3 separate regions of the Homo sapiens genome follow, and all the other regions are linked to region 2. Evidence: fine-mapped expression QTL. A gene starts in region 2. Each other region holds a variant in brackets. All regions are shown on one strand. Distances are between the middles of the regions. Region 1 has its middle 10 kb from the start of LINC01936. Region 2 holds the start of LBH (LBH regulator of Wnt signaling pathway). Region 3 overlaps LBH (LBH regulator of Wnt signaling pathway).

Region 1 (8,177 bases), 100 kb before region 2:
AAGCCATCCTCCCATCTAATCTCAGCCTCCTGAGTAACTGGGACTACAGGTGCACACCACCACGCATAGCTATTTTTTTTTTTTTTTTTTTTTTGTAGAGACAAAGTCTCACTGTGTTACCCAGCCTGCTCTCATACTCCTGGACTCAAGCAATCCTCCCACTTCAACCTCTCAGAGTGCTGGGATTACAGGTGTGAGCCACCATGCCCAGCCCACACTGGATTTTAAGGACTTAGTATGAAAGAATGTCAGCAATCTCATTAAAATGGTTTTTATTGATTTCATGTTGAAATAATAATACTTTGGCTATATTAAGTTAAATAAAAATATTACTAAAATTAATTTCACCAGTCTCTTTTTACTTTTACGTAACTTTTAGAAAATTTAGAACTACATATGAGGCTTGCATTGTTTCCATAGCCAGCACTGATCTATACGGCTACTTGACCTCTCTGTTGCAGTTTTCTCAGCTCTAAAATGGGGATACCAATAATATCTGTTTTACAGGATCATCATAAGGATAAAATGAGTTAATATTTGTAAGGCATTTCGAACAATACCTGACATATGATAAGTACTTTTAAAAATCTTTGTGAAATAAATAGATGGTGCTTAACATTTTTAGCATCTAAACTGGTTGGATAGGCCCAGGTCCCCTACAAAACTGAACTTGAGGCAGAGCTTAGGGGCTAATGTTTTATTGGAGGGTATAATCCCAGGGAAAGCAGGACTGAGGGCAAAGGGGAAGTAAGGCAGGGGAGGAGGGAAGCCATCACATCATAGTTTTTTGTGGAGCTGGCCACAGCTTCCCAAGAAAACACATAGCTGATTGCTTGATCACGTGAGCCATCGAGAGAAGCAGTATGGGACCACTGCATCTTGGCAGAACTGTTGAGGGAAGGAAGGTGAACAATTTATCTGCCAGTTCCTTCCCATCTCCTGCTCACATTGGTTAAGGTTTGCCACTTGTGGAGTTAAGTCCTTTGCACTTTCTGCTTATGTCACTAGGCCCTTTTGGAAAGCCACCAGAGAAGTCAGAGATGCCTAAGTTCAGATGGTTGGACATGGGCTCTGGAGCCACTGAGGCCCCTGACAGGGAAGGCGCCATGGAAGGCTTGATGAAGCCTGGCCCTCATCTGTGGGGCTCAGTCAGCAATGAAAGGTGAGGCCATAGCAGTGGCAGCGAGGTTCATAACCACCGGGAGGTCATCATACCACGGTGGGGCTGCTCCAGCTAGGAATCAGGGCAACAACTGAGCCTAGGGGAAAATGGGGCCAAGCTGAGGAAGGAGGCGTGTCCTATAAGCCCCATATGCCCTGCCTCTCAGATCCTGATCAGATTTGCTTACTGGACCTCGACACTTACATGTCTCACAAGCATCTCAACTTTAGTGTTTCTGAAACTGAAGTTCTGGTTTCCGTATTTGAGTCTATCCCCTGACCTAGCCCCTCTGTTTCCTATCTTCTACAGTTCAGTAAATTCACCCACTTGCTTAAGCCAGAATCCTGAAGGCCATATTTGAGGACTGGCTCTTCCTCTGCCACATGTGATCATCAGCAAGTCCTATGGATGTAATCTCCAAATTGGATCTTCAAGCCATCTGCCTTTCTCTATCTCCACCAGATAGCGGGTCACCAGCATCTCTCCCATGGCTATTACAGTAGATTCCAAGAGGGTCTTCCTGCCTCCTCCCTTTCCTCTCTCCAGTTCTTTCTTTACACAGTAACCAGAGTAATCTTTCACAGTATAAATCAAGTCATGTCTCTTGGCTGCTTTAAAACCCTGCAGTGGCTTTTTACAATAAATCCGAAGTCTTTTCCATGTTCTACAAAGCCTTCCATGACCTCACTCCTGTCTTTTCCACCTCACCTTGAAACCCTCCCCTTCCTCCCTGGCCCGGCTAGCCAGCCTCATTCTTTCCTAACACACAATGCATGCTTTATTGTTTCAGGGCAGGAATTGGCAGAATACTTCCTGCTTCTGTTTTATAAATAAAGTTTTATTGGAACACAGGCATGACAGAGATTGATGGACCATGAAGCCAAAGGTATTTACTATCTGGCCCTGCACCGAATGTTTGCTGAACCCTCTTTTGGGGCCTTTGGCCTTGCCTCTGGCTCTTTTTCCAGTTTGTAGCCCAGTTGATTCCTTGACTTTCAGCTCTCAGCTTACATGTTACCCCTTCAAATGGATCATCCTTGACAACATTGCTTCAGTGGAAGTCCCTCTCTCCAACCCAAAAACACCCTTATTCTCCATCACACACTCTGCTTCTGACCTTTGTAGCATTTTCTCAATTTTAGATTACATATATATTTATTACTTTACCTGTTTACTGTCCATATCCTTCCCTGACAACTCTAAGCTCCACGAGGGTAAGGACTGTGGCTGTTTTGTTCAGTATTGCACTCCTTGCACCTCCAAGTGCCTTCTCTTGCTAATAAACCACCGGAATTCCTGCATCCAGTTGAGGCTTGATCCCTTCAGAGCGGCTCCTACTCTCCCAACCACTCCGCTAGTCTGTATACTGATCCAGCAATTCTCCGCTACTGAGGTGAGGTTGGGCACAGGTGATGCTTCCAGAGAGCAGTTGAGTGTGGAGTCTGAGCCACAGGGTTGCATTTCCTAACAATTCTCAGCCATCTGAGGAGTTGTGACACCACCTCACTGTGTGTTTGATTTTTAAAAAATGATGTTACAGGCCGGGTGTGGTGGCTGACGCCTGTAATCCCAGAATTTTGGGAGGCCGAGGTGGATGAATCACCTGAAGTCAAGAGTTTGAGACCAGCCTGGCCAACTTGGTGAAACCCTGTCTCTACTAAAAATACAAAAATTAGCTGGGCGTGGTGGTGCCTGCCTGTAATCCCAGCTACTCGGAAGACTAAGACAGGAGAATCACTTGAACCGGGAGCCGGAAGTCGCGGTGAGGCAAGATCGCACCACTGCACTCTCCAGCATGGGTGACAGAGTGAGACTCTGACTCAAAAACAAAACAAAACAAAAAAGATGTTACAATTCCCTCACTGTTCCACACATTCTAGAAAATAAAAACTGAGCACAGGGTAGCATGCATTTATCTTTCATTAAAACAACCTGAGAGTTACTTTGGGGAGCAGTAATTCTGGAGGGCTGCCGGGAGGAGGTCCCTCAGCAGCACTTGTAGTTGCCTCCTCTGCAGCCACCTTGAGCCTGTGCCACCTTCCAGGGTCCTGATTCCTTGCTAACTTCCCCAGAGCACGGGCTGGACAGGTGCAGTTGGGGCTGGGAGGCCAGGCAAGCAGCTGCAGCTCAGGGGCACTGAGGGCGCGGGCCTGGAGACCGTTCTTGGGGAACAGGCCGAAAGAAACCAGGGACATGTAAACACATCAGACTGAGACTCAGGCCCCAGAACCATTGCTTTCAGATGTACACAGGCAGTCATGGGGAGGA[G/C]ATGCAGAACAGGAAGTGGTTTAGAAAGCCACTCTCTCAGCTTTACAGATGAGAAAACTACATCTAGAGAAGGGACCTACCGGGTTAAAATTAGAACGGACAAGAACACAGGTCTCTCACCATTCTCCTAGTGTGTTCTTCTAGGCTGAATCACCCAGGCTGTCCTAAGCTTCTAAGGTGTCCTCCCGGACAGTATCTAGAATGGCTGGGCACAGCTAGGATTTCTCTGGAAAGCTTCATGGAGGGGGCTTGGAAGAGCACTGGACTTGGCCTTGGGTGAAGCTAGGTTTGAACCCTGTCCTCTCAATAGCTGCAAGTCCAGGACTAATGTCCCAAACTGCTTTGAGCCTCAGTTTCACAACCGTAAACTGTGGTAAGAGTCTCTGAATTGCTGGACAGTTTTGAAGATTCAATGAAGTAAGACCCGAGTGTGCCTCAGGAGTTCCAGATACATAGCAGGCATGCAGACATTCAGTCAATATTAGTTGGATTTTGAGTAGCCAAGCTAGCAGAGGAGGGGCCGGAGCAGGAAACCGTGTATCCATGGGGTATGGTGTCTTCTATAGTAATTCCAAATGAGTTCATCAAAGGAAGAGTCCACGACAAATGGCCCTTTTCCATCCCCTCAATCCCAACCTCCCAGAATACCATGTTTCGGGTACTACAAGGATGACGGTTGCATCTCTCCAATGTCTTCAGAGGAATCAGGGTTTATACTCATAACATCTTACATCCTGGGACATAGGTTTCAGTATGACCTATGCTATTGTCTTTGGATACCTGCTTACCAAAGGCATTCCACCCTCTCTAGGCCATTTGATAAATATCCAGCGAAACAATGTTATCATTGTTGGGTGGTTCAGCTCCCCACCCACTCTGGCAACAAAAGGATATCGTTAATGTCCTCTGTGCAACAAAAGGATATCATTTGTCTTAATCTGGGGCATGTGTTCAGAGTCCTTTGAGATCTCAGAGCATTCTTCTTCCCCCAGATCCAGGTTGCCTGACTGTGCTCTGAGAAATTCTGAGTGTTCAACAGAGCCTCTGCTGGTGGGAGAGGGGCCAGAGTGGGTGGGGTGCTGAGCCACCCATCACCCTTCCTTCAGAGAAGTTTCAGTTTTAGCTCTTTGCATATTGGGTATCTTTGTAAGATTATATTTGAACTAAAATTTTTGCAGTTAAAAACCAGTTTGCAAATTGTGCACTGGAGACTGAAACTAATGGCTGCCAGGTTCTGTCCTAGGTGGTTGGCACATGTCATCTTGCCTCATATACTCCTCCTGATAACCATTTGAGTGGGTGTGATTAGCCTTGCTGCCGTGATGAGGAAACAAGCATTCTGAGAAAGGAAGGAATTAGCTTTAGGAGCTAAGAAAAGAAGGATCCCAGGACTGGAACCCAGGCCTGCCTGGCTGGAAGCGACACCTTCAGACCCTGCAGAATACTATCACAGCGTGATGCTAATAACATGGATTTCCAGTTGGAGATCTGGGTTCAAGTTGTGTTTCTGCCTCTTCCTACTTGAATGATCCCTGACTGGACACTGTATGTTATTTGAGCCCTGTTTTCCTCCCTGAAAAAATGGGTATGATAATAATACTAGTCAGAAGATGCACACCCTTACATCACATTCCAGTGATGCTATTTGTGTGGCATCTTGGGGGAGAGACCCCGACTGCCTCCTTCAGAACCCCTCATCCCCAGGCTGAGCTGGCCTGACTGCCAGCAGACTCCTCATTCATAATGATCCCAGTCTTGGGGTTGCTGAACCTGCAAGGGTGAAGTTTCCCTGGGGGCCCAGAAGCCCTTTCTTGCGCTCAGTCTGGGGCTATGGGGCTCAAGATCAAAGTGTGTGCTCTGCTTTCCCTGGGTGAGACACATCCCTTCACCCTGCAGCCTTCTTTAATTAGCTCAGAGCCTTAGAGCAATACCTTTTTTGGGTTCTTATCAGCACTTCCTGATAAAGTAATTAATGGGTTTCTCTTCTCCACTGAGCATCCTGCTGCCCCAGAGGGCTGAGCTGGGAAGGAAGGGGCTAATTAGCTCCTGTGTGATTATCTGGCTAAAGCAACTGCGCCAAGTCTCTGCAAATCTGTATGGAGCCCTCATCCTCCCCTGGGTGAAACTTCAGCTCTCTGTTTATTCCTTTTGCTTGGTGCCAAGTCTGCCCACAAAGTTCAGCCCCTTCCACAGAGAGCCTCTCTTTCTCTTATCACCAACATCTGCAGGTGGCACTGTGGGACCCAGGGTCCTGCCTTGAGCCTTGAAGCCAGTCACCTGGGAGCTCTCAGGGAGGTCCCTGGAAACCTGAGCATTCCAAAGCGAGTCCAGACTTTCCAAGCCTGCCTCTGTGAAAAACACAATGGCAGCAGAGTGTTGTGGAAAGAGCCTTCATCTGAGGCCATAGACTGACTCTAGACTGCCACCTGCCACCAAATAAGCTGTGTGACCTTGCGTAAATGATGCATTCTCTCCAAGTCTCAGTTTCCATAGCTTTTTAAAAAGGGAGTGGGGACAGGGAGTTGGTATATAATCAGGGATGGCAAATGCGTGGTTTTCCCAACTGTGATGAATTTGTCATGACTCTGCACCATGTTGACAGCGATGAAGCCATGTCCAGTTCCAGTGGGGAGACTGGAGATGCTGACCATGATGTCTGTCATTGTTGATGTAGGTGCAAGGCTTCCCATCAGCAGCACTACTGGCATTTGGCAAGGGCTATCTTTGCTGTGTTTGACGGTGCTATACCTCTCAGGTATTAGTACCTTTCAACAGCAATCATTGAAAGGCAAACAAATACTTTGCATGTTTCCAAAGATCCCCTGGGGGCTATGCTATCCTTGGTTGAGAACCTTAGGTAGGCAGATGGTGGTAAGGGTCAGGATTCTTTGGGCTACAAGTGACAAAGACCATACTTAAATTAGTTTAGCTAAAATGGAAATACAGCCATTTATGTAACAGAGAAGCTGAAGGAGAGACTTGGGCTGCCTTTCTCCATCCAACATAGCTAATTAATCTCTCCTTCAGAAGAATCTGCGGTAAGGTAAGTTCTTTTTAGATCCTCTGCCTCCCCAAGCCCTTTCTATCTGGGAGGAAACAACGGAAAAGATGAGCAGCAAGGTCATTCCAAAGGTGGGGGATAGATCACCCCTTTGCTCAGCCTGGCAGGCTAGAACATTAGCAGGGACTTAGGCACAGCCAACTGTGGGTGCCTGCCTGGGACTTTGTTCTAGAGAGGCCACACAAAGACTCTTGGCTCTATCCAAGGTTATTGTTGGTGGCGGTGGTGCTGAAGTTGGGGTTTTGGGGCAGGGTAAGTGTGTCCAGAGGTGATGGGGTCCAGTAGGGCAGTGATGGCTGTAGCAGCCTCCCACGCTGAATTCCTGTGATGAGGACTCGCCTAGGCCTTTGCCACCCTTAGCTTCTACATGTACTTTTTTCTTCGGCCTTCCTGTTTATCCTGTGGGTGGCCCAGGACCTTTCCAATAAATTATTTTCCTGATTAAGTTAACTAGAGCCAGTTTCTATTGCTTGCAACCCAGACCCTCGCTAATATAGTTGGAGTGGGGCATCTGGGTAGGACGAAAAGCCAGTAAGCAGGTCAGTTGCTCCAAAGTCTCGGGGGGCTTCTGGAAGGTGGTTAGGAAGCAAAAGCCAGCAGGACCCAAAGGCCACGGAAGCAATTTTTCTTGGTGATTGTGCTAGTGATCTCACTGAAGACAGGAAATTCCTCCTCACAGAGAAGACTCACTTCTATGTAAGGCTCCGCTTTTGGGGGCTAGTTCCTGGCACCCCTATCTCATGATCTACCTCTTTGCTAAGCTCAGGTCCCAGTGGCAGACAGGATGAGTCTGTGCTGTACTCCCTACCCATCATGCCCCTTTCTTTACCACATGGGATTCAGTGGATAGGTGTCTCCACACTTGTCACTGTCAGTTCTAGAAAACAACATAAAGCAAGTGCCTGAGCTGAACGCACAGCCAGAGCAGGGCCTGGGTCTTTCCCTCCTCCCAGATTAACTCAGACACAGACAAAGAAGGGCTGGGGTTCTTGCTATGAAATCTGTGGGTGGGGAGAGTCCGCTTTGCAGTGGAGTTGATTGTAATAAACTCCCCCTCCTCCTCCAGCAGGAAATGGCCAATGTAAAACCCTAAATGAGGGCCGGAGTCTAGAAGAAACTGTAATAGGAACAATGACAGCATCCTCTGTAGGAGCTGCAAAGAGAACAGACCAGGATGTGAACCTGGTTGTTTTCCTGTGAGATCCTCTGCTACATTGTTTGCCCAAGGTCAAGGCTCTTTGAGTTAGCCTAGTGAATTGTTCACCCCCAGCCTCTCACCTCGCAAGTGCTCAGAGGGTCAAAGCCATGCAGTAGAGATTGGGGGTTGAGACCATGAACTCTGGACTTTGGAGCCAGACTGCCTGAGTCCAAATTCCAACTCTGTCACAAGATGAGTACATGTGGGCAAGTTATTAAATTTCTGTGCCTCCATTTTCTCCCCTGGAATGATAAAAATAGGATACCTACCCCTGAAATTCCTGGGGAAGAATTTCCATTCTTCAATGAGATCACCTCATAAGATTACCGTGAAGAGTGAAAGGGCCTGGCACAGAGCATGATCTTAATAAATGTCAACATCTTAGTGCCCTTGTGTGGTACCTGATCATGGTGGTTCTCCTGACCAGTTGAATAGATGACCCAGTTCTCCAAGGTATTCCTGAATGAGGCCAGGAAGTAAGAATAAAG
Region 2 (8,177 bases):
CCTTCCTCCCCCAGCTCCTTCCTCCCTCACCACCTGCCCTGAGTCTCAGGTCCAGCAGAATGGCCTGAAGGACTCGAAGCATTGAGAAAACGGCCCTATAGGGCCTGGCCCTTTATCCTGGGATGTATTTAAAAGGAAAATATGAAAAGCACACACAAGATGAACAGATGACTGCATTTGGAAAGGTTCTGTGATGGAAATCTAAAACCCAGAACCGAAAGAGAACCTCACCTGTAACCACAAAGAGATTCATTCTGACTCAGGGGCTTGGAAACTGCTACCCAAAACCCCCTGGCTGGTGGGCCAGGAAACTTCTACCCCTCCCACCAGGTTGAGGGGCCCTCAATTGTCTTCCTCAGACCCACTCTGGGGGAGGAGGGTAGAAAAGTCAAACGTAGCAAAGAGAGTTCCCCCTTGCTCCACACACCCCCTTCAAGCTAATGGCTACTTATTTCAAGACAGGCCTGCCAATATAGACAACACAAAGGGGCCTCCTTAGCCTCCCAAGCATGTCTGAAGTTAAGTGACCCTGCCTGAACTTTTAGCTTGGTTCTATCTGATTACTTTCCCTCCATGGCACCCACCCTGGCTCCCTGGCTTTCTATTTGATTTTTTTTTTTTTTTAATTTACAAAATAAATGTCCCTGGAACAGTTCTAAGGAATGACCAGCCAGAGTCAACCTAGACCCTAGCGGAACCAAGCCATGGTGTGGACACACAATACATCAGAAGAACAAGGCTCTGGGGTTAGACAGACCCAAGTCACTGACTCAGGCTGAGCCATTTCCTCATCTGTGAACAGGGTGAGGATCCCCGCCTGGGAGCTGTGGTAAGATGTGAGCAAGGCAGCGTCTGTAGAGTGCTTGGCGTGCAGTGGGCATACCTTCATGTCTGTAGCACGGACCCATGGACCCATCACACTCCCTTTCGACTTCCCTGGGCTGGCCATCCTACACAACTTCCCTAGCTCCAAGGTCTTCCTTAAGAAGAGACTCCTCCCTCCCCCCAGTTTAACAACATAGGAACTCTCCTCCAAAACCCCAAACCAGCTCACAGCCCAGAGGGAACTGCAGGTGCTCCATTGCTCCCACCCCCAACCCAGGGGCAGTAGAGAGGCAGCAGGGCAAGCCAGAGAGAGGGCTGGGGTAAGAGTCCAGAGGGCTCACTCTGGTCCCTTTTTGTGATCCTTGTGCATTTTGGATCCACCAGACAGGATGATCTCCAAGCAAGATCCCAGCAATAGCATCCCTGAGCTAGCCTCCCTTTGGGGAAAATATCTTCCTCTCTAAGTGGTTTGAATGTTAACTCTGAATCAACAGGTCAATAATCAACCCAAGGAAGAAAGCAGCATTGGACATGGCTATCCCCACCAGACCACCCTTCTGCAGAAGCCCCCGACAGCAATGCTTCTACTACCCCAGGCATGGCTGGGAAGGAAAGTTCTGGTCTCAATCGACTAAACAAATCATTTCCTCCTTTGCTGCGGTGAATGGCAAAGTTCACAGAGCCAGTAGGGTCAATTCATCACAATGGCTAATGCTTGCTGAGCCCTTATCTGTCCCAGACACTAGGAATGCTTCCTACACATCCACTTGTCATGGTGAATCTTTACCACAATCTTAGGAGATAAGGACGATTGTTGCCCCATTTTACAGATGAAGAAACTGAGGCTTACTGGCATTAGGGGACTCTGCCACAGTCCCACAGCTCTTATATGTGGCACTGGGATGCAAAACCAAGTCTGTCCTCACCCCCAGCAAAAACCACTAGGCTCTAGAGAGTCAGAGGGGAGCCAGGACTTACTCACCTGGTAGGAAAGGCCATCCTTGCGGGGGCTGAGGCCGATCTCCTCCATGGGCTGGGTGTTCATCATCACCTCAGTCATCTTGGCCGATCTCAGATAGTCGGGGCTGCCAAGAAACCCAGACCAAAAGTCAACAAACACACGCGCTTTCACATTCCTAACTCTTCATGCATTCACTGCTGTGGGATCAGGGGACTGTCTGGAGACAGGAAGAGAGGTGTTCAAAACAGAACTTGCAGCAAAACAAGCTCACACCCTGAGGAAGCGCCTTGCAAGCCCACAGCCCCAGGGCTCAGCCGCAACAGACAAAGCCCATTGTCTGCAGACCTCTCTGGCAAACCTCTTCCCTCCTCTCCTGTACTCTAGTCCCCACTGGCACAGAGGGACCCTGAATGTTTCTTTAAATGACAGAACCAGAGAAACCAAAACAGTAGGTAGCTGAGTCCATCTGTCTATATTAAAACCAATTCAACCACATCTCCCTTCACTTCTCCAACTAAGAATAAAAATAATCCTCACATGAACTTTCCAAAGGGGAACTCTATATATTATTAATACACAATAACAATAACAGGTCAACTGGAGGGAAACAAAGTCCAATCATACAGCTTTCCTAAATTTGTCTCTCTGGTGCTCCTTTTGGCAAAATGTTCCACTTAAAGCCCCAAGGGGTCAGCTTTTCTGCAAGTTTCACATCTGCCATCCATCCCCTTTCTCTAGCCCCAGACACAGCAGCTGCATGCTCACAGCTTGAAAAACATCCCCTGGATTAAAAGCCTTAAGGATACCCGACTCTGACTGCAAAGGAAATTTCCAGAGGGGCCAAGCTGGCCCACCAATGGCTGACATGTGAAAGTGCCTTGTACTCTCTAAGCAGGATACGAATATTCCCTTATCCTTGCACAAACTCTGGGCACATACAGGATCCCGTGCACATAATGCTGAACATAAGCACCAAATACAGGTACCTGCTACACAGCACCCAATGCTTTCCACCATCGTGCCTGTGCACATGGTTTAAAACAAAAATATGGGGGAGTCTTTTGAGGGACAGTATCTAAGGAAACAGGGGTACCAGATGCCTCTTCAATTGTATGGTTACTACATAGATAAGAAATGACACTGGATTTAGAAACAGAAGCAATAGGTTCTAGGCTCTGCCCCTCAAGAACTGTGTGATCTTGAACAGGTCCTGTAACTTCTCTGAGCCACAAGTGTCCTGTTTGTCTGTTACTCTGATGCTAATAGTGCATACCTCACAGTTAGGTTAAGGGCTAATGTCTGCATAAAAGCATTGCAAGCTGCAAAGTGCTAATCGATGAAATAAACTTAAACCTTAATTTCTCATAATATTCTTAATGGGTCCAAACACCCACCTTGGCAAATTTTGAGCAGCCAAAGGCACAAAGCCTCCAACAGCCTTCAAAGCTTCACCTATAATAAGGCACCTAGCTGCTCACACACCACGGGAGAGGCAAGGGAGGGGCACCCACAAGAAGGGTACACAAGCCTCGGGGTGGGGGAACTTGAACTGTTGAGAGAGGGAAGTTCAGTCCCCTCTCTAAACACTGCCAGGCTGGGACGGATGGGGGCAGGGAGACTAACAGAAGATGCGGGGCTTTGCGGCAAGTTTAGGTTCGGGAGCTGGGCCCTGCAAAGGCAGTTTCCTCCCGGGTCTTGGAAAGGCTGCTGGCGACCTCCAAAGAAAGGAGCCAGAAGAGCGCACGCAGGGTGAAGAGTCTGACGTAGGGGCGGCTCTTCCTCGCTCGGGGCTGTGGCGCCGGCCCGAAAAGTTGAAGCGAGAAGCATGAACTTTCCGCTTCTTGGGCCAGGCCGGACCCCGCCGCGGCTTGCGCCGGTTTTCCCTTCGCTCAGCGCCTGCCGGAGACTCGGGGCCGAGCTCCCCACGTCCGCACCTGAGAGCGCGCTCCGGGGCTGCCGGCGCTCGCCCCCGGCCGCTTCTCCTCTAACCCAGAGCAGGAAGGAAGAAACTGCCAGCAAGGAAGTCCCAGCAGTCAGGGGCCTGCCTCTCTCTGCATCCCTCCCGGCTCCGATCCCCAGTCCGGGGCAAACCTCCGACGCCCCGCGCCCGGCCCGGGCTCCTTCCCCTTCAGCACGGCGAAGGCGGCTCCTCCCAGTCCCGGCCCCCACCAATGTGCGTCGGTTTTTAGGGGCGGTGGAGAGGGCAGGGGTTGAGAGGCTGCAGCGCGTGCCCTGCTGCTTGTGGCTTTAGTGGGGTTACGTGTGGGGAGAGCGTTTCCCGCCCCCCACCCCCCCGGAGCTCTGCAAACCCTGCGGCCGCACCAGCTCAGCCCCGCTGCTGCCGGCCTCGACGTTGAGACTTGCATGCAAACAAAAAGAAAAAGAGGAGGGGCCCGGGAAGAGCAGGAGCCCCCCTGCGCCAAGTGGGGCGCGCGCCTCCTGCAGCTCTCCGCATAGGGTGGTTTCATTGGGGGGGATTCACACGTGACCCCTGGCTCCCCCGCCAACCAATACAAACCCTCCGGCCGTCACTTAGGTGAGGGCTCCGAGTTCACGTCCTTTGTCTGGATGTTCTCAGCACCCCCTCCCCCCACCCCCACCTTTGCAACCTTGACGTTGACTCCTGCACGGGCTCGGGCGGCGGGTTAGCGCTGAGCGCCCGCGCCGCCGGCTGCCCTCGCACCCGGAGCCGGCACGAAGCAGGCGCCCGGGCCCGCAGCCACCGCCGCGAGACAGACGCCCGCCGCAGGCGCAGGGTACTCACCAGTGAATGGGGAAATATATAGACATGAAGTCCTAGGGCAGGCTGACACACGCCCCTGTGATTTAAAAACGGTCCCTGCGTCCCGAGTGAGGATGACACGGGCGCAGACGGGCACGGCAGGCGGCCGAGTGCGGACACCGGGCGCTCGCCGTCCGCCTTCCCAGGACAGCCCCACGGCTAGCGACGTCGGCAAGGTGGACACAACTCCCCGCTCTCCACTGAGCACTCAGCCCCACAAAGAGCCCGGGAAGCCGTATTTATAGGGGCGGGGGCGGGGCTTGGCCCCGAGAGGCCCCGCCCTCCCTCGCCCACTCCTGGAATAACGTCACCAAAATCATGAATGGCTTCAGCGCTCGCAGCTCCGGCGGGCGGCGGCTCGGGGGCGCGCTCGGCTCTGCTCCCGGGGCCGTGGTTCGCTGCGGCTGCGAGCCCGGCCCCCTCCCGCCGCTCTCCCACGCGCACACGCGCTCACTCGCACCGGCCCGGACTCCGCGTCCGCGCCGCTTCCCGCTCACAGCCCCCTCCACGCACACCCCGAACTCCAGCGCGGCGGAGGTGGGCGCAAGGAGGGCGCGGGGGCCGCTCGGGACATGACAGCTCGGCGGCTGCTCTGCGCCGGGGTAGGGCACCCGCCACTCCTCCACCCCAGCCGCCCGGCGCCAGCGCCCTCCTTCCCATCCACTGGCTGTCCCCAGCCCACCTCGGACCCCTCTGAAGCGTTTGTTCCCCATACTAGGCCTCTCTCTGGAATCCTCGCCCGCAGCCTTGCGATCAGCGAGGGGAAACAAGAGCATGGTTAAAGAAGAAGCGGTGGGAAGGTGGCAGAGACGCGGAGCCGGGGGACCGAGTGCCCACGGGGCGCGTTGGCTTGCGAAGGGCTGGTCTGCAGCCCTGAGTTCCGTGGAAGGTTTTATTTGTGGGAGCAAGGATGTGGTGTCGTCCTGGGTAGGATTTTTCCATTGGAGACACACATACGCCCGGTCTGCAGCGGGGGCAGAAGGTGTGGGCGGGCGGTGTGCACGCCGCCCCCCATCCTTGACTCCCACGTCTTCTCCGAGGAGTCGCTCATGACAGCAGAAACAAAGAGCTTTAGCCGAACGCCTCCCACACTGCCCAGGAATTGCAGCTCTGGGCGTCTGTCCAGGCAGTCAAAGCTGCGCAGCCCCCCAGAGCCACATGATGGGAGTCTCACTCGGGACCCAGCGCTGCCGCTCTGTGGCCTCCGCTTCAATCACGCCTGTAAAATGGCTTTAGAACCCTCACCTACCTGTGTATAGGGGCTGAGGAAAGGGGGCGCGGGGAGATCAAAAACTAAGCAAAATTAAATTGGCTTTGAAGTGAATCAGCTTTTTAAAAGAAAGGCAGTGAGTGTATTGAATCCGTATATATGTACTTGAAAGTGGAAACGCATAGCTTATCTCAGGCAAAAGGATGACAGAATTAATGGCGAAGGTTCGACAGGGGTAGGACCCTGAAGGAAGCCGTGAGAGAAGACCCTCATAATTTTCATCAGTCCCCGCAAAACCAGCCCAAACAAAAATTATAAGAATTGATGAGAATAATTTATTTAAAAATAACTGGGCTATTTTCAATCACTTATATGCTTATATGTACAACCTGAGTTAAAATAGTGTGCTTCCTATGAAAACACAGCTTCATGACAAGCCCCTGGCTGCCCCCTCCAACCAGAGAAATTCCCCCACCTCCCAAGCTAAACGCATTCTCTTCCTCTGGGGGTGTTGCCTGATGGAGGGGCTAAACGGGAGATGCTGCAGGGATGGGGTTATTGTTGATGTCCTGCACAGAGGGTGGGGAAGCTTCTCAGTGTCACTAGCCAGGTGTGGCACATTGTCATCTAGGCAGCCACAGGAGACGCCAATGCTTGGAGAGCTAGTTTCCAGGCTGAGACTTCCAGGCACTCAGAGGAAAATGTCTGGGCTAGACCCCGGGTGGGCAGGATGAAGCCTTCTGCCACTTCTTCCCAGTAGCAATCTCTGGTGAGGCTGGGATCAAAGACTGTTGCGCCACTTTTACACATAACAGACACACTTTATGTGTTTGTGATTATTGCCATGTGAAGCTTTCAAAACTCAGAAAGCTATTTCCCTCCCTCCCCATTTTCCCAAATATCTAAATGTCAAAATGGCCTCATTTTGGAGAAGAGGGTGGGGAGTAAGGCCTCCACCAGCTGTTATCTGGCCTCTGGAAAAATCCTCTACATTGGAGTGCATTGAGGGAATTACCTGAGGCCTACTCTTTGGGAAACTTATTAATGCCCATTTTAGCTAAAGTTCATCTCTGTCAGTAAGTTAAAATAGAAATAAGCCTGGGGTTGTGATCCCCAGTCTGCATTTTCTGTTTCTCCTCTGGAATCACAGTGACACATCCATTCATTTGAAAATATGGGAGGTGGCTGGGTGCGGTGGCTCACGCCTGGTAATCCCAGCACTTTGGGAGGCTGAGGCAGGTGGATCACCTGAGGTCAGGAGCTCAAGACCAATCTGACCAACACGGTGAAACCCCGTCTCTACTAAAAATACAAAAATTAGCTGGGCGTGGTAGTGGGTGCCTATAATCCCAGCTACTTGGGAGTCTGAGGCAGGAGAATCGCTTGAACCTGGGAGGCAGAGGTTGCAGTAGGCCGAAATTGTGCACTCCAGCCTGGGCAACAAAAGTGTGACTCCGTCTCAAAAAAATAAAATAAAATAAAATAAAATAAATAAAATAAAATATGGGAGGCGTGGGGCTAAGCTTTGATGCAACCATAACTAGCATGCCATTTCTCAGTTATACTAGTCTATATGATGCCTTGCAGGTTTTTTTTTTTTTTTTGAAGCATTTCATTGTCTTGGCTTTCAAAAGAATGTGATAAGGTTAACATAGCACAACTTATGGTCCTCAGTTCACAGATATGTAAACTGAGGCCGAAATAAATTAGGAGGCTTGCCAAAGATCACACAGCCGGAAAGTGGTTGAGCTGGGCCTGGAACTCAGAGGTTGTAGGCATACTCAGCTTCCCCTTCTGTTAACATAGCTCTGGCTGACTGCCTTTCCTTCATATCTCTAAAGATACAGAGTATTTCAACATGCACACTGACCATTTCTTCCCAATATCCTATGAGATAGGTTTCTGTCCCTACTGCCTTTGAATAAATGAAGAAACAGAAACACAAGCGAATGAAGTTACTTAGAGCCCCAGAACCTTAGAGCTGAACGAGACCTTCCAAATCACCTTGTCCCAGTCTCCTCGTTTTACAGGTGAGAAGACACCTAAGAGATTAAATGGCATGTCCAAGGTCACCAGGCTATTAAGTGGTATAGATGGAACCTAACGCAGGTCTTCAGACTGCTGGTCAGATGTTCTTTCCACTTTAACACTGCGTCTTGCACTGCATTTGCCAAGAAGTCAGCAGCAAAGGTCAAACACAACGTCTGGACTCTGTAAACCACCACAGTCCATCACCAACATTTATTGAACATCTACTAGATGCAGATCAGTGAACTAATTACCCAGTCAGAGCCTCTGCACTCCCTCCCTTCTCCCGTCTTTGTCTTTGGAGACTAAAGAGTTGAATTGCAATTCTGCTTCAATAGAATCCAGGTGTAATCAGAATTGCCTTGCTTTCT
Region 3 (8,177 bases), 26 kb before region 2:
AAAATATCCTGACTTGTGGAACACCTACTGGGTGCTCAATCTGCACACCCCTATGCGGGAGTTATTAGTCTTATATCCATTTTACAGACAAGAACACTGAGGATCCTAGACATTAACAAAATGGCCCCACAGCACCTATGGAGGGGCTGCACAGGACTCGAATGCAAGTCAGCTCGAATAACACAGCAAAGTCAGCCAGGTGTCACCCAATCCTTCTCCTTCAGGGAAGAGGAGGCAACTTGGGGTGAAGCAGGAGGGTATTGAAGCAACTGGCTAACCATGAAAAAGAATAACGAAACTTTTTTCCAAACAAATAATTATTTTGTTTAAAAGTCACATGGAGGCAGTGGGAGACAGAAGTGAAGACTCATCTTTCATCACCAGGGGCTATTTTCCTATGGATATCCAATTGTTCCAGTACCACTTGTTGAAAAGACTTCCTTCCTCCACTGAGCTGCCTTGGCACCTTTGTCAAAAATCTATTAACCACACATCTGTGGGTCTATTTCTGGACTCTATTCTGTTCCACTGATCTATTTGTCAATCTTGATGCCAACACCACACTGTTTTGATGACTGTAGCTTTGTATTAAGTTTTTGAAACTGAGAACTGAGAGTCCTCCAACTTTAGTTTCCTTTTTCAAAGTTGTTTTGGCTAGTCTGGGTTCTTTCCATTTCCATAGGAGTTTCAGAATTAGATCATCAATGTCTACAAAACAGCTTGCTGAGGTTTTGATTGTGTTGAGTCTATAGATCAATTTGGAGAGAATTGACATTTTAACATTGAGTCTTCAGATCCATGAACATGGTAGAGCTTTCATTGATGTAGGGATTCTTCGATTTCTCTCAGCAGTGTTTTGCAGTTTTCATTGTTTTGGAGGTTTTGCATATTTTGCATCAGAGTTACTCCTAAATAGTTTATATTTTTTTATGTTAATGTAAATTGCATTTTAAATGTCAAGGTTCTGTTATTTTTTTTTTTTTTTTGAGTTCTGGGATACATGTGCAGAATGTGCAGGTCTGTTACATAGGTATACATGTGCCATGGTGGTTTGCTGCACCTGTCAACCCGTCATCTAGGTTTTAAGCCCTGCATGCATTAGGTATTTGTCCTAATGCTCTCCTTCCCCTTACCCCCCACCCCCCGACAGGCCCCAGTGTGTGATGTTCCCCTCCCTGTGTCCATGTGTTCTTTGTTCAACTCCCACTTATGAGTGAGAACATGCAGTGTTTGTTTTTTTTGTCGGTGTTACCAACATATAGAAATGCAGTCATTTTGAATATTGAGCTTTGATCCTGCAACCATGTTAAACTCATTTATTAGTTCTAGTAGCTTTTTTGTGTAGATTTCATAGGATTTCCTACACAGATGATGTCATCTGCAAATAAAGACAGTTTTCTGCAGGGGTGTGTTCAAGGAGGCTGCATTCTAATAAATTCCTCTTCAGGCTGCTGGAGAAAAATAAAGGGGCAATCCATATGAGGAGGGTAAAGTCCGGCCAGTTATCCTTGGGGCAGCAGATCCATAGATCTAGTTGTTTCACTAAGGCTAGTGTTAAAATGGGTCATTATTCTGTAAATCCTGGTAGACACCTTCAGCACAAACCACTGGATTCTCTACACTTACCAAGGTTAAGGAACCCGGAGGAGGGCTGGGTGAAGGCAAAAATAGCCTTGGGTTAGAAAAATGCCCCCAAATCCCTTCTACAAACCACCATTCTCTCACTCTGACCTCCACAAAGCCTCCTTCCTGGTCTCTAGGTTTTTCATCTTGCCCCCTCCAATCCCATCTCCATTGAGCCAGGTTGTATTAAAATGTGAAACAGACCATGCTAGGTCCTTCCCTTAGAATAAAATCCAAACTCCTAGCCAGGACTGAGTAGCCCTCTTGCATGCTTTCCTCTTCTACCACTCCACCCGCCAAGCCCTTGCCAAGCTGTTCTCCCTGTTGGAATCATTTTCCAATGCCCCCAACTCCCCTCTGCTCCCTGCCACCTAGTACCTGGCTAACTTCTCCTTGTCACTGCTTCCAAAGACCTTCCTGACCCTCCCAACTGATGTTCACACTCAGGGCATCCCAGTTTGATCCTGCCTTGCACTCACCATATTCGTCATTTAATTTTTCACCAAGGCAGGGCCATGAGAACCAGGGCCATTGCCATTTGTGACCTTGACCTCTTACTAATGCCTGCCAAGCAGTAGGTGCTCAGTAAATGCTTTGCATGATAGCCTGAGCTTGCCACATGCCCACCCACTCACCCTCCAGCCCCTGTGAATGACCTTCAGATATGTCTTGGGTTTTTCTTCCTTTAGAAGGGTAGTTCACACCTTGGCTGTGGGTTAAATCTCCCCAGTGAATTCTCCCCAGACAAGCCATCAGGTGAGCTACATAAGGAGCCTCTCTTGGGACTCCCCCAGCTCAGCCTCCTGCAGGACTTCTTCTTGCTCCTGAGCTCACTCCATTCCAACGGAACAGGAAGGGAAAAAGGAAACCAGACCAGAGTGGAAAGCATTTTCAAACTTTATTTACAACTGTCACAGTGACAAAAAGTAGTTTGGAAAAAAAAAAATGCTAGTTTCTCCCTGAGCCTCAAAAAAGAACAGATAGAAGTTACAGGAGGTTCATCTCACAACAGGCATTTTTACTGAAATACTAGGAATTTTTTCAATACAATCAGTTAGAAATACACACAAATTACTTGAAAAAAAAAAAAAGAGGAGGCCAGATAGGAGCTCAGCCACTTGTCCAAGAGCAGCTGGGTCCCCCCAGCAGGCTCCACCGCTGAGGGTCCTGACATTAGCTGTCAGCCCCTGGCCTGCTCAGACTGCAAACGGTCATACAAAGTGGTCTAGGGACCAGCAAAAATAATAAACCACCCCCATAAACAGACACATACACAAAGTAGATTTGTTACGCAGTTTACAAGCATGTTCCCATCACACAGCAAGACCAGGACAGGTGATTCAGGGTAGCAGATAAGGGAAGACACCAAAACACAGGAATTGAAAAGGCAAGACCCCCGTCCACAAGGGGAGGCGAGGGAATGAGAGTATGGATGAACCACTCTCTGCAGCCAAAACAGAACGAAGCGGGGAGCAAGAGAGAGGAAAGCCCCTCTCGGTGCAGGCTGCCGGCCTCTCCCACTTCTGCGAGGAGTTGGAAGAAGTTATTGCCATTGATGTGTGTCACACAGGCAGACAACAGAGGGAGGAAGCAAGGGGTGCCGGCGACCATTGGCTTCCCAGAACGGAATTCCGCGGACTGCTGTGTCCACAGCGCACCCTCGTCCTCCTGCCCCGGCATCCCCAGAGCCACAATGACCTTGAGGTATTAAATACAGCTATATACACACGTCCAGAACTGAGGGTCAACCTGGACTGACTGGAGACCTGAGGGGACATGCTGCGTGCCTTGGTTGGCCGAGTTTAGCTCAAGGAAGGCTCTGAGTCCACCTCTTGGCCACACGGTACTGCTCTCGGCGGACTGAAGCATTTGTCCTGCAACCTGCTGCTTCAGATGGCTCTTAGCTACAATAAGAAATCCTAAGTCCAAAGGCCAACTTTCTCATACAACTGGTGCCCTTGCAGGAAGCAGTGGGAGGTGGGGAGGGATGAGGACCACTGTTGAGTAAGGACAGCAGAGGTCCCTTGCCATGCCTCCCTTCTGCCCTTGTCCGGGAACAACATGGGGAGAAGCCAGGGATCTCATGACATCCTTTAGTCTCAAACTCGATCCCAAGGTTGCCACGACAGCCTTGTCCCCACCATGCAAGTCACCTCCCCAACAAGACACATAAAAAGCCACGTCTGCTCTCCACTAGGCTCCCACAAGAAAAACAGACCAAGATCCCCCATGGGGCGTGAGTACTGCAGCTGGGCAGACTGGCGGGAATCCATAGGTGAGCTGGGGACCCATGTACCCATGGCTGCTGGGGCTGGGGCAGGGAAGGTGGCGGTGAGGAGAAGGAAGGGCCAGCCTGGAAGACCACGCCCACTCCATCTCGGGAGCAAGTCTTGGAAGGGCAGCAGTTAAGGGAGAGACCTTCGTGCTGAGTGTCCACCCTGGGGCTTCCAACAAGGGCAGGAAGTGCTCTCACTACTCCTAAAAAGTGCTGGGAAGCAAAATGGATATATCAGGGAGAAAAGCTGAAAAGCACTGCCTCTTAAAAACCGATCACACTGGCTATGTGAGCCTACCACAGCTGGGAGCAGAGAGGCCATGGAGTAGAATGGGGTGACCTTTCCTTTCCTGCACTTCACCTCCAGCTGGCTTTGCAGGCAGCCAATTGCTCCTGCTCTCCTTTACTCTCCTCCCTGTCATATAGACCAACACACCTGAAATGAAAGCAAAGGGTGGGGTGGGTGAAACTGGAGAGAGAGATGAAGACTTTGTTTTCTGATGTCCCAGCAGCCAGAGTGAATGTCTGCTGAGCGCATCCTGGCTGCAGTTCTCTGCTCAATGTTTTCTTAAAAACATGTATTTTTTCTTTTGCCTCATGTTTGTTTTCTTACCCCAAATGTTCCTTGCTTGC[T/C]TTGCACATGCCCCACCTCCCACCCACCAAGACCCATTGGAATCCCACCACTGCCTCTACTAGGCTGCCTGAGTTCAGATAATGATCTCAAAAACAGCACTCGCTCCCCTCACCCACTAACCCCCTGGCTCTAAGCAGCTTCCTTTCTCAGAGGGCCTTGCAAATTGTCAGAGGGCTCCACTGCTCGGCAAATTTCAAAAAAAAAAAAAGGCAAGAAAAGAAAAGAAAACCAACTCGGTGATCTGCAGGTGCAAAACAGAAGCCTCGTTTGACATTTTCAGAACAATTGCGGCTCACTCTCTTCTTCCGTCATGATGGGAAAAACACAGTTCAGGAACAGATGCTGGCTGGTATGACCCATGGGAGTCCACAGGGACTCTACTGCTCTTTATTTTCTTTCGCTGTCTCTTCGCAGTTATCTTGCTCATCCTCCTGGACCAGGAACTCCTCAGGGGGCCACCGGAGCTCCCCGCTCTCCACCTCCCCTTCTGTGGGTTCCACCACTATGGAGGGCAGACGGTCCTTCAGTTTGCAGCAGCGGTCAAAATCTGACGGGTCTGGGAAGATCTGAAAGAAAAGCAGAGCAGGTGCCTGGTCACGTAGATATTTGAAAAGAGAAATTCCATTCCTTCTTTGCACATCCATGTGGCATACTGGGTGCATGCCATAGGCCAGGGACTGTGCTTTGCACTCGGGAGGCTGTGGAGTATATAAGGTGGGAGCCACGGGAGAATATTCTGGGGCAACATAGGAAACTGTCCCTCAGTCAGACTTCCATTCCAATCCTGAAGCTGAAAGTTTGGGGGCAGTGCCGCTGAGTTTAAAGGTTGATGTGATTCTGTTTGGATTCTGTATTTTATTTGCAGATAAAATCATCCCAAATCATGTTATCCACAGTAAGTCTGGTCTCTCTCTGCAGGAAGTATTTTACTCCAGCAGTACAAAGAATACAACAGGTGCCACAGCATTAAGTACCTCCCGGAATAATTATTGGCACTAAGTGAGCAGGTTACCAGGTGCTATACATATATCACTTCCAACCCACACAGTCATGCTGAAAAACAGGTGTTGCTAATGCTAGCTTAAAGAATCTCAGGCTTGGGAGAGTAGGTGGTCCAAGACCAGACAGCCTAGAAATGAGTGAGGGATGGGATGAGATTGAAAACTGGGTCTGGGCTGGGCCTGGTGGCTCACACCTGTAATCCCAGTGCTTTCGGATGCTGAGGCAGGTGGATCACGAGGTCAGGAGATCGAGACCATCCTGGCTAACATGGTGAAACCTCTCATATGGTAAACTACTAAAAATACAAAAAAAATTAGGCGGGCATGGTGGTGGGCGCCTGTATTCCCAGCTACTCCGGAGACTGAGGCAGAAAATGGTGTGAACCCGGGAGGCGGAGCTTGTGGTGAGCCGAGATCACGCCACTGGACTCCAGTCTGGGCGACAGAGCGAGACTCCATCTTGAAAATAAAAAAAAACAAAAACTGGATATGTTCGATTCCCCTGCCCCAACACCAGCTTGTCCCTCAAGCAGATGGGTCCTCATCCCATTGCAACTGTAAAGTCAAAGCCAAATCCTGATGAACGGCATGGTCCCCAGTCACAGGCAGGCTGGGAACAAAATCCAAGGATCCTTTTTCACCTGTGAACAGTTCCTGGCTTCTTGCCAGCTCTACACCTGAAGGAGTCTACTTCTTTTTCCAGAGTCCCGTCAGCCAGGCTTTGTTTTTTAATGCCTACTTTGTGTCCTGCCCAGAGCTGGCAGAAACTCCAAACCCAGCTATAAAATCAGGGCCAAATCTGGCTCTGCGGATTCCCTTTGCATACACTGCCCTGTGACTACAGCTGACCCAATTCTTGGCCCAGCAGTTTAAGTACTTAATCCGCTGGGCTGCTGGTCCCTGCCATTCACAGCCCTCAGTGACACACCCCAGAGCTAGAGAGAGAAGCCTCTGTCTGGGATGCTGGGCTCCCAGAATCAGGCACTTGGCACCTTCATGGCCATCTCTTCCCACCTCTCCATTTGGTAGATGAGCAACTCAAGGCCCCAGAGGGGTCAGGAGACCTGCCTAAGGTCACACAGCTTGTTCATGGCACAAGAAAGGAAAGCAAAACTTTGAGTGGGTGGAGACACATTTGAAGAGATCTGGGGGGCTGCCTGGTCCTGCCTGCACCTTGATCCAGATGGGGACAGGCCCACGGCAGCAGACAGGAGTCACCCATTACCAGGACATAGAAGAAAGGCCCTTTTACAAACTCAGGCCTTCCCAACTTCTGTGGTGCTCTGAGGATACCCGGTCTTATTGCAACCCAACCCCATGCAGTGCTGCCCCAGCCAAGTCACACTCTCACCACATCACAGGCCACGTGGGGCTTCCAGGAATCACAGGCCTCAGTGAAGCCTTCCCAATACCTGCAAACGAGTGATTATTAACCATTTATCCAATAAGACCTATTGCTGGGGATTAAGCCTTAAGCCAGCTGCACAACCAGGCATCATTAAAGACTTAACGAGGCTCATAAAAGGTATCATAATGGCAGCCAGGAGGAAAACAAGTCCAGGGAGGGGATGGGCCAGTGTGGGTCACGGAGGCAGAGGGGGACACGGACCCCGACTCTGGGCTCTGTCTTCCTGACCAGGTTGGCCCAGAAGTTCTGCCCTCAGACGGCGCTGTGCCCAGACGTGCATGTGCCGAGCGAGGAGCGCCACGTGGGCTTTTTGGGTGCGTCCTCATTTCTTGGGTGGGGCCAGAGCCCCCCATGGGCTGTGAGGACACAAGGCGCCCTCCAAGCATGAGCTCTGAGAGTGGGTGAGAGGGACCCCGATGGAGGGAAGCCCACTACAGGTCACGAAGCTCTTTCAGATGTCAGCTCGTTCAGGGCTCACTGCCACTCTAGGAATAGTAAGACCCGGGACTCTGTGGGTCACATGGCAGAGCCAGGATTCAAACCTACATCTGCTGTTTTCAGTGCCTGAGCCTTCTGGAAAATGGATTAGGCTGCTGCTGGGTCTCCACCCCATTTCACAGATGGAAAACTGAGCAGGGAGGGAGAGTAAGACTCTGGGCCTTCACTGCCCAGGCAGCTGTGAGGGCCCCAGCCCAGGAGGTGAGCTTCCCAGTCCCAATGCTTGTTTTAAACCTTCAGGATCCAAGACAGCGCCATAAGCTGTCAAGAGGAGAGGGGGACCTGCCCTGTGAAGAGCCTGGCCCTGCCTCCACCCTCTGACCTCACTGCCAGGATTGTGCCTACCTGTGCCAGGGCCACATTGTCAGGGCTGGGAGAGTGAAAACCCAATTCTAACTATGACAGCCTAAGCCAAGGAAAAGCAAAAGGCATGACAAGCAGGGCAGGCCCAGCAAAAGGAGGAGGGGGGGAGGGGGAGGAGGAGGAGGAAGAGAGGAGGAAGAGGACGAAGAGGAGGAGAGGGGTGGGAAGCATTGGATTTCACTTCAAGCTGGAAACAGGTCTTTCATTAAAATAAGGAAAAAAATCTAATGATGATGATGATGGATGAAATTTTTCCTGAGCAGAATCTCAAACCTCACAATAATTCTAGTTACCACCCCCCAACTTATCCACAGTTTTGCTTTTCTTGGTTTCAGTTACCCACGGTCAACTGCAATCCCAAGATAGGTAGGTACG

What was found. PIP is the estimated chance that this variant, and not a neighbour inherited with it, causes the effect.
Region 1: its variant is fine-mapped to the expression of LBH in whole blood (TOPMed, PIP above 0.99).
Region 3: its variant is fine-mapped to the expression of LBH in whole blood (TOPMed, PIP above 0.99).

What each region holds. Positions count from the first base shown.
Region 1 is chr2:30,332,500-30,340,676 of GRCh38, reverse strand. No RefSeq gene overlaps it. Among named protein-coding and RNA genes, the nearest start is that of LINC01936, 10 kb to the left of the region's middle. RefSeq lists enhancers at 2,618-2,857, 3,238-3,427, 4,288-4,357, 4,368-4,427, 4,518-4,617 and 1 more. The variant G/C (reference allele first, on the strand shown) is at 3,431.
Region 2 is chr2:30,228,138-30,236,314 of GRCh38, reverse strand. It overlaps LBH (LBH regulator of Wnt signaling pathway), which reads right to left and starts at 4,781. Exons shown (of 3, transcript NM_030915.4): 1 at 4,551-4,781; 2 at 1,808-1,910. The coding sequence starts at 4,576. RefSeq lists silencers at 1-86, 3,782-3,841, 3,852-4,051, 4,442-4,531, 4,732-5,281 and enhancers at 5,085-5,599, 5,600-6,115.
Region 3 is chr2:30,254,354-30,262,530 of GRCh38, reverse strand. LBH (LBH regulator of Wnt signaling pathway) reads right to left here. Exons shown (of 3, transcript NM_030915.4): 3 at 2,503-5,098. The coding sequence ends at 4,910. Among named protein-coding and RNA genes, the nearest start is that of LBH, 27 kb to the right of the region's middle. The variant T/C (reference allele first, on the strand shown) is at 4,532.